Homo sapiens: one gene and its partner. The protein of the gene in region 1 purifies or fractionates together with the protein of each later gene. This does not show direct contact. Each region holds a gene or a part of one and is shown on either strand. Other genes may lie near its edges.

The links.
Region 2: the proteins of FABP1 (region 1) and GNPNAT1 purify together in Homo sapiens (affinity purification with mass spectrometry; 2 studies listed by BioGRID and IntAct, with this or other methods). This does not show direct contact.

What each region holds. Positions count from the first base shown.
Region 1 is NC_000002.12:88,122,482-88,125,062, reverse strand, and holds the end of FABP1 (fatty acid-binding protein, liver), read left to right. Parts: intron 1-476; coding exon 477-569; intron 570-1,958; coding exon 1,959-2,009; 3' UTR 2,010-2,081; downstream 2,082-2,581.
Region 2 is NC_000014.9:52,781,297-52,788,833, reverse strand, and holds part of GNPNAT1 (glucosamine 6-phosphate N-acetyltransferase), read left to right. Parts: intron 1-962; exon of another isoform or gene 963-1,001; intron 1,002-4,169; 5' UTR 4,170-4,183; coding exon 4,184-4,337; intron 4,338-5,348; coding exon 5,349-5,411; intron 5,412-6,922; coding exon 6,923-7,050; intron 7,051-7,537.

The DNA of each region.
Region 1 (2,581 bases):
TGAAGTGAAAGGACTGTTTGAGCCTAGGAGTTCAAGACCAGCCTGGGCAACATAGCAAGACCTCATCTCAATTAAAAAAAAAAAAAAAAGAAGAATACATACCAAAGCAAAATATGTATTCTCTACTGGTCAATATTTGAATTTTGCCACTACCTCCCTCCATTAGCTTGGGAGAATTGAGATTTTACTTGATTTGATTTTAGCATTTGTATTTGGGGCCACTTAGGTGTTCCATGCTCATTTCTAGATCACATGCCATGAATTAAAGTTCTGACAAAAGAAGTCGTGACATTTTATTTAGTTCTTAAATGCACCTCACTTCTATTTGGAGCCAGAGAACTAGAGGCTTGGGATCATAGGAACCAGAGCATTTTGGTTGTTATGAGCTGAGACCTGTGCAAAGGAAGCAACTTCATTAGCAAGGCTCTTGCCCCCCACCACCCCTTCCTCACAGGTCACCTCTCTGTTCCCTGCAGACAGTGGTTCAGTTGGAAGGTGACAATAAACTGGTGACAACTTTCAAAAACATCAAGTCTGTGACCGAACTCAACGGCGACATAATCACCAATGTAAGTTGGTGGTGCTCTGAGCGTGTGGCTCCCAGTGCTTGAGGGGAGAGGGGAGGTGAAGCATGGGGAGCGGCTCACATACCCTAATGCCACCCCTCCACCCTCCAACCCCCAAACTTCTTTCCTGTGGTCAGTATCTGCCAGCACTTACTGAGGATCCATCATGTCCCAGGCAGTTTACACACATTATCACTAATCCTTTCTGCTCAGCGCAACCAACCAGCCACAGAGGCCTCCACCTGCCCTGCATGCCCAGGGTGCTTCATAAATGCCTTTGCCCATTTAGCGTTTATAAAGAGAATCCCATTCATGGTCATATTATGGCAGCTTACAAGCCTGGCACAGTCCAGTTATGCAGTCAGCCTTGGTGCCTGGCTGCCAGCCACATCCTGTACCCTATTTGGGGGTGAATGGTGCAGTGTTTCTCCTGCAGGTATGTCCCCCTGACTCTTCTTTGCCCCCAGAATATGCTTTAGGGAGTCACAGACAACAGAACACTGCCTCAGGGCGCTGTCATCACTCTATTCAAATGGAAAAATTCTTAAACTAGAGAGAGTGTGAGCATCAACCACCCAATGTGCAGTTTCCACCTCCGCCCCAGCACATTCCCAGGAGAGCAGGGGAGCAGGAGATGAGCTATCCTGCAGTAAGTCCTGGCCAACGCCCTTTGATAGGTTCCATCTCACCTAATCCTCCTGTCTCCTTCGAGGGAGGCTGGATGAGGGATTCAATAGACAGGTTGACCTGTCCAAGTCATCAGCTAATAAATGTTAAATCCAGGGCTCAAACCCATCAAGCAGCAACTATTGCATTGCTGCTGAAACTGAGGGGCTCCTTTTCACCCTGATGACATGGTATGTCATTCCAGCAGTCTTATTCAAGAGAACTGGCAGGGGTGGAGGAAACATCCTTAAAAACTCAAAAGCTGATGCATCCACTGTTTTTATATGCTTCACAGCTATAGGAGGACAATTATGCACTACCCACTGCCTTCCAGGCTGTGTGCCTAGTTGTGTCCATGTACATGTATCCTTGGTGCTCAACATGTATTTGGTGCATAGTAGGTACTCAATGAAATTTTGAGAAATTAGATTGGGCTGGTTTGGATGGTCTTGCTATAACAGTCATTGATGTAGAAAAGAATTCAGTCAAAGGCAGGAGGACTTTCCAGGTGAGGAGGAGAAGTGACAAAGACTTGGCATAGGATTTTGGAAAACATTGCCAACCTTTCCTCCGGTCCTACAGGAAACCAGACGAATTTTTGAATTGTTTCATATGCCAACATATTTGGTGCTGTTTTTTAAGCTTAATTTTGTTTTTTATGCTTAATTTTGTTTTTTACAATACAACATCAGATGAACACTTCATAATTTCTTTTCTGGCTTTCAGACCATGACATTGGGTGACATTGTCTTCAAGAGAATCAGCAAGAGAATTTAAACAAGTCTGCATTTCATATTATTTTAGTGTGTAAAATTAATGTAATAAAGTGAACTTTGTTTTAAAAAAAAATGTCTTCTCAATGCCTTTTCATTGATGGTGCTATTGCTCACCATATTCTCGTAAATATACTTTCGTAAATGTTGATAATCCACATGATCCACACTACCAGGTCAAATCCGAAGAGTAATTCCCTGAACACAAAACCCATGCTGCACACCCAGGTGTTCTGCCAGGAAAGCCAGGTGTGGCTAGATCTGCAGGAAGGCCCTGGAATGCCCTTTCCCAGTCAGGCACACGGGCAAGGAGCTGGAGCCAGAGGATGTGCAGTGGGCTGGCCTTGAGGGTGCTCTCTGTGGGGACAGGGAGCAGGAAGACTGGGCAGAAAAGGAGAGCTATACCCACAAGCACAGCCACAGTACCAGCCCACCAGCAGACAGGTGCAGAAAGGTCGACACTGACCCGCCCAATAAACTTTTCCTCCTGTGGGAGGCTGAGCAAAGGGCTTAGTGAGAGGCGCCAGAAGTGGACAGAGGAGGCTCAGTGGAAGTTCCCTCCATGCTATGGGCAGG
Region 2 (7,537 bases), on another chromosome or scaffold:
ACTTCTTCCCTCTCATGAAAATTATTAACCCTATTTTTCATGTTTTCTAGACCACATTTTTATTGTAAACACAGACAACTTTATAGGAAAAAGGAATCTAGTTAAATGTGGTTAAGGTTGATTTAAATTCTCTTTTGAGTTTTCTTTGAACTTTGTATTTACAACTATATGTTTAATAGCAAGACCAAAATGTTTAAATAGTGTGCTGCCTCGAGGAATTTACATTTTTAATACTGTACACATTTCACTTTATTAATACTTAGCCTGTTTATCTACATACCTGAAAAACAATGTTGCTACCTACCATTCAGATGAGATTACACACAAAAACCTCAAGGGTCCAATTTAGACAAAACACTAAAACACGTGGACTCAATTTCATCTATTAAAAACTTGTTTTGGCTGAGCATGCTGGTTCACACTTGTAATTCCAGAACTTTGGGAGGCTGAGGCTGGAGGATCACTTGAGGTCAGGAGTTCAAGACCAGCCTTTCCAACATGGCAAAGCCCCATCTCTACTAAAAATACAAAAATTAGCCAGGCGTGGTGGTATGAGCCTGTAGTCACAACTACTCTGGAGGCTGATGTGGGAAGCTGAGGTAGGAGGATCACTTGAGCCCAGGAGTTTGAGGCTGCAGTGAGCTATGATTGCACCACTGCACTCCAGCCTGGGCAACAGAGTAAAACCCTGTCTCAAAACAATAAAACAAAACAAAAAACCTATTTTGAATGGCTATTAAACTTGTTAAATTTGAAATGACTGCTTGATCATCACAATTTCTATATTTTCCTTAATATTGTTAGAACTGGGTATAGTGTATGCAGCATAATTTGAATCATTTTGTGTGTGTGTGGCTGGGGGGACCTCTCAGCAGTCTACATTATAAACTACGTTCTTTTCTACCCAAGAATGCTAACTTTTGGTATAACATAAACGTAAGAGCCTGTCATTCTTTTTGTAGTTCCTGTAACCAGCACAGTGCCTGATTCATGAATTAAAGGTAAAAAAAAATGAACAAGAATTTATAAACTTTAATTTTAAATTTATTGCTAACTAGCATATATCTTATTAAGTACTTGCAGTATTCCAGGCACTGCTAAGTGCATGACTGCATACAGTAATGCATTTAATTCTCCCAGTAATTTCATCTCCATTTTACAAATGAGGAAACTAGATTCTAAAAGCTTAATTACCGTAGTACATATCACACAGTTGACATTTGAACACCAGGTATGAATCCAAAGCTCATGCTCTTTCTATGCCTAGGTTTAAATCCTGGCTCCGCTAATTTTGTGACCTTGGGCAAGTTACTTAACATTTTCTCATCTGTTAAAATGTAGATAATAACCACTCCTAACCTGTAGGATGGTTGAAATAAATGAATTAGTAAAGCTCTTTCAACAGTCTGGCACATAAGAAGTGCTGAGCAAGTGTTAACTTCTGTTGTTACATCACATCACACTACCTTCCCATAACTAGTATATTGCAGCATTGCTTATATAGTTACATAGGATTATACAGGCAGAAACTTATTATCCATCTTTAAGGAAAAGTTAAGAATATTTGCCCTAAAGCATACTGTGACTTATGAAATAAGGAACAATTGGGGGTTAGGTTATTGGGCAAATTGTTCTCTCATTAAAATATGGTTTCTTTAACTGGATATAGAAATAAGTTGGGGACTGCTTTTTTTGGATCTCTAATCCAAAAATCCAAAACACTCCAAAATTTGAAACTTTATTGAGGGCCAACATGATGCCACAAGTGGAAAATTCCACATCTGGTATAATGTACAAAAACTTTTCCATGCACAAAATTATTTAAAATATTGTGTAAAATATTTGTGCTATCTGTATAAGATGTATATGAAACACAAATGAATTTTGACTTGGGTCCCATCCCCAAGATATCTCATTATGTATATGCAAATATCCCCAAATCTGAAAAAAAAAAAAAAAAAAAAAAAAAAAAAAAATCCAAAACCTGAAACATTTCTGGTCCCAAGCATTTTGGATAAGGAATACTCAACTTTTAATTGTTGGGAAGCATCTGTTTCTTTTAGCAATTCTGTGCTGCACAGAAGCCCCCTGGCCCCAGTTTTATGCTTTGTATGATTTGTTTTTCATCCTTCCTATCGTTACTTCTCTGTTATTTAGTCTCAGTTTTAAAACATTACAACTAGTGAGAACCTGCTCATTTCTAAATGTTCAAAAAAGAGGGGGAAATATCATGATCACTTTTCAATAGCATGAAAAACACCAGCTATTTTTAAGCTGCTTAGATGCAACTGAGAAACACTATACAGTTTAATTTTAATTTAATTTTTTTGAGACGGAGTTTCACTCTTGTTGCCCAGGCTGGAACGCAATGGTGTGATCTCAGCTCACTGCAGCCTCCACCTCCTGGGTTCAAGTGATTCTCCTGCCTCAGCCTCCCAAGTAGCTGGGATTACAGGTGGCCACCACCACACCTGGCTAATTTTGTATTTGTAGTAGAGACAGGGTTTCGCCATGTTGGTCAGGCCGGTCTTGACCTCCTGACCTCTGGTGATCTACCTGCCTCTGCCTCTCAAAGTGCTGGGATTAAAGGCACGAGCCACCATGCCTGGTCCATACCACAGATTTTTAGAAAATCTGCTGTGAAAACAAAATCCTGCAGTGTATATCTAGCATAGCCAAGGTAAAGTATTTCTGAGAATGCCAAAAAAAAAAATTAATTTGAGCCTGTTCATCAATTTTCTTCTATTCATGGTTCATTGAAAAAAAAAAAAAAAGCTACATGTGGCTAGACATGGTGGCTCACACCTGTAATCCCAGCACTTTGGGAGGCTGAGGCAGGCGAATCACCCGAGGTCAGGAATTTGAGACCAGCCTGGCTGACATGGCGAAACTCCGTCTCTACTAAAAATACAAAAAAAACTAGCTGGGCGTGGTGGCAGGTGCCTGTAATCCCAGCTACTCAGAAGGCTGAGGCAGGAGAATTGCTTAAACCTGGGAGGCGGAGGTTGTGGTGAGCCAAGATCACATCATTGCACTCCAGCCTGGGCAATAAGAGCGAAACTCCATCTCAAAAAAAAAAAAAGGCTACATGCCCAGTAAGTTTTTTGAGAGGGAATTTCACTCTTACATTGCCCAGGCTGGAGTGCAATGGCGCAATCTCAACTCACCACAACCTCTGCCTCCCAGGTTCTGAGGCGATTCTCCTGCCTCAGCCTCCCGAGTAGCTGGGATTACAGGCATGCGCCACCACGCCCGACTAATTTTGTATTTTTAGTAGAGATGGGGGTTTCTCCATGTTGGTCAGGCTGGTCTCGAACTCCCGACCTCAGGTGATCTGCCCACCTCGGCCTCCCAAAGTGTTGGTATTACAGGTGTGAGCCACCGTGCACAGCTGAAAGTTTTCTTTATTGGCAAGTAAGACTAAGAGATTACTTTTTTAAAAAAAATTTTTTTCCCCTTGCAATTTCCTGTTGAAACAGATGCCTTCTTGGCTCAATAATAAAATCCAAGAACATAATGTAAAAAATTTAAGAGCCCATGAAAAGTCAGCTATTCATTTAGTAGCACCAACCCAGAGGAAAAACATGTTTTAAAAGACCTGATAATAGCCGGGCGCAGTGGCTCACGCCTGTAATCCCAGCACTTTGGGAGGCCGAGGCGGGCAGATCACCTGAGGTCGGGAGTTTGAGACCAGCCTGGCTAACACGGCGAAATCCCGTCTCTATTAAAAATACAAAAAAATTAGCCGGGCGTGGTGTCACGTGCCTATAATCCCAGATACTCAGGAGGCTGAAAGAGGAGAATCACTTGAACCCAGAAGGCAGAGGTTGCAGTGAGCCGGGATCACGCCTCTGCACTCCAGCCTGGGCAACAGAGTGAGACTGTCTGAAAAAAAAAAAAAAAAAAAGACTTGATAATAAATGGGATTTTATAGTTTAAAACTTACTAATTTAGTCACTTAGCCATTTTTTTATCTGATAGTAGGCATGATTTTTCTATTTATCTGTAGTTGTGGAATTTAATGTTAGATTCAGGCTGGGTTGCAGTAAAATATCTCGCATATGTGCTAAAGAATGCTTCTAATTGCATTAATTTATATTAACTTTCTCAACAATCATAATTTTCCTTCTATTAAATAAAGTGACTTAATATTCAAATTTTTATTTTAGACCTTACTAGAAAAATGAAACCTGATGAAACTCCTATGTTTGACCCAAGTCTACTCAAAGAAGTGGACTGGAGTCAGAATACAGCTACATTTTCTCCAGCCATTTCCCCAACACATCCTGGAGAAGGCTTGGTTTTGAGGCCTCTTTGTACTGCTGACTTAAATAGAGGTAATGTACAAAATCCTGTGTAAAATTAGAGTTAGCCTTCCATTTTTCTCTAAACATTATGATGCAGATAATTTTTTTTAAATATTTGACTTTTGGACTATTTTTTGTATAATACTTAGTTTTTAAAGTGATGGACACTCAATACCAATGAGTGTGTGTCATGGCTAAGACCAAATATTACTGTGAAATATTTAAAATGACTTAAATACAACATCACTCCTTCCTAATTAAGCCAAAAAGATTTCTCATAAACAAAAATTAAATTATCATGTATGATGACACATAAGGAGGGATCTTAAGAAGCTGGTTGGGGAATGAAGGTGGAAATAATTTTCCTTGGATAAATTGAAAGGGTTTTTATACAGTTATTTCTTTTTTAACATCTAAATTCTCCAAGTTAACTTCCTTAAACTTTGGTAATTAAAAGTCAACTTTGTCCTTTTCACAATTATCTCTTTGCTAGACAGCCTGAAGGGCCTAATTTTGGCCTAATTATTGAGTGTAGGAAAGTTAAGATTTTCAAAATTCCAGGTGCACTGTTCACATCAATTTCCGGTAACACTAATGAAATTCACTAGAAATTACAATTTTAAAGAGTGTAATCTCAACAGTGTTACTTATACTTTAATTTACGAATATTGTATTTAGCCATGTTGCACCTTTAAGTAAAACCAAATCACATATTTGGGAAAATCTGGCACCCTTTGCATTGAACTTAATGTAAAATATAATACATTGAAGAATGTATGTTCTGGGTCTATAAATACTGGATATTAAGGTCAGCACTATTTAAAACATCTTATGCAGGCAGAAGCACTGGTAAAACCTGTTATTTTTGTTATATGTAGTGATTATAGAAGAATAGGGTTCACTTTATTCTAATAATTAAAAGATTATAGAAAGTTCTGAAAAAATAATTGCCTGTAAGCCCACCTGCTTAATATATTGCTTATTTTCATACTGTCTTCCTTTTGCTATTCTCGTAATTTGAAATCTGTTTTTCAAAACTAGGTTTTTTTAAGGTATTGGGTCAGCTAACAGAGACTGGAGTTGTCAGCCCTGAACAATTTATGAGTAAGTACTATAACCTCTTTTTCCTGAAATAAAGGGAAACATGATTTCATTTTTGTTTAGAGCTGTTCAGTGCCCACTTCTGTTTTTGTTCAAATAGCTGGAAATTATTCAAAGAACAAATTAGCTGTTTTATACAAATGTTTAATGTGGCTGAGTTGTTCTAGAATCCAAATGTACCAGTAACTTTGTTTTTGCAAACTATCTGACTACTTTATTAGATAATTATTGTACCATAGGACCTAGGTGTTAGCTCTAGAGGTTTTTCGTTTTTTTATTGTAGTATTTCCCTTACTGTGGTTATTTACAGAAATTTCATTACCAAATCAAAAAAGCAAGACTATACGCTTTAAATTTATTTTGGGGTTTATTTGTATTGAAGTTTAAGGTTAGCAGGCATCTTAAGAGTTAGTCCACCCGTCCCCTGCCCCTCTTCTTTTAGACATAGGAGAAAATAGGAATTTAGAGAGATCCAAAGACTTGCCCAAGATCACAGGTAGTTATTGCTACGGTGAGGAATAAAACCTTAATTCTGTCCAGTGCTCTACCACTGCTTTTTCCTGTTATAAAGGAAATGAAGTATTATTATCATTACTAAATATTTAGTAATATTTAATAGCTGAGGAATTACAATTCTTCATTTCCTTATAATAGGGAATTTTGTATTGAATTCTATTTGACCCTCCTGAGAATGAGGACCATCATTCTGATTCTCATTGTTTATTTTCATTCACTGAATTTCTTTTTCCCATTTTAGATCTCTATCTGGAATGAGACCATAGAAATTAACAATATGAGAGACTATTAGCCTCAATTTTTATTCCTGAATTTTTCTTTGCATGCACATGAATTAGATGAGAAACCATGTTATTTCAGCAATAGTACTGAAAATCCATTTGAGGGGAAGTATCTTTGCACCTATTTGCTATGTGACTTGGAAAAGTTACTTGGAAACAGATATGTTTTTACTTCCTTGCAAGGTGCTCTCAAAGCAAACAAGAGCAAGTCATGTTATCACAAAACACTTTCCATCACAAAGGGAAAATTAAAATATATTTTGTAAAAATATTTTGAAAGCAAAAGACTAAAAATTCTAGAATTGAGCCATGTAAACATGCTCTTGTTAAAATGTGCAAAGGTTATATTTGAATATCTATTGAGTATAAAAGTTAAAGAGATCTATTTAAAGTAAATGAAGAAATTGAAGTTTTCATTAGTCATGGAAGTGGCAACATCAGCCATTTACTTGTATTTTAAGTGTTGTTCATCTAAAATAGCTATATTAGTCTTTATTTTGCTAGCAGATATTTTGAATGTGTAGGTTATATTCCAATTGATACTAATTGCTGATATTTCAACTACTTGGTAATATTTTCTTTAGAAATGGAAGGTAAATTACTATGGTAAAACAGCTTTAAACATTTAGTAATTAAGTCAGCTAATCCTAATATTTTTCTGGCTCCCCATAAAATTGAATGTCTACTATGTAACACTTTGTTATCCAATTTCCACAGAATCTTTTGAGCATATGAAGAAATCTGGGGATTATTATGTTACAGTTGTAGAAGATGTGACTCTAGGACAGATTGTTGCTACGGCAACTCTGATTATAGAACATAAATTCATCCATTCCTGTGCTAAGGTATGTGCTGCTTATAAATAAAATGGACAGCTGTTTTCTAGCACAACTGACTTTGAGTTTCCATTAGACAAATCTGTTTTCTCATTGATTTTCAGTGCCTCTTAGAAATCCCTTTTCCCAGTGTGTTCTGAGAGCTTTAAGAAAGAAAATGTATAACAGTATGAATTGTATGCTAAAATTGTTCTGTAAGGTGGATCAATTTGGTATAGGCATAGAGAAACCAAACAACTTAGCAGTAATGCACAAAATCCCTAATGTTACTCTTTTAAAAAAAACAACTCTGAATATACCACGTTAGCATAAATTTGTTTCCACATGGTAAAGGGTTCAGATTATTCCGTTCTAATTATGATACATCTAATGCATGTAGTGCCCTTTCATCCCTCAATAACTCACATAAAATAGTAAATAAAAAAAGAGGGAGAGAAAACCTTAATTCAATGAGAATAAGGTAGGAACACTTGGGATGTGTTCTGTCACACTTAGG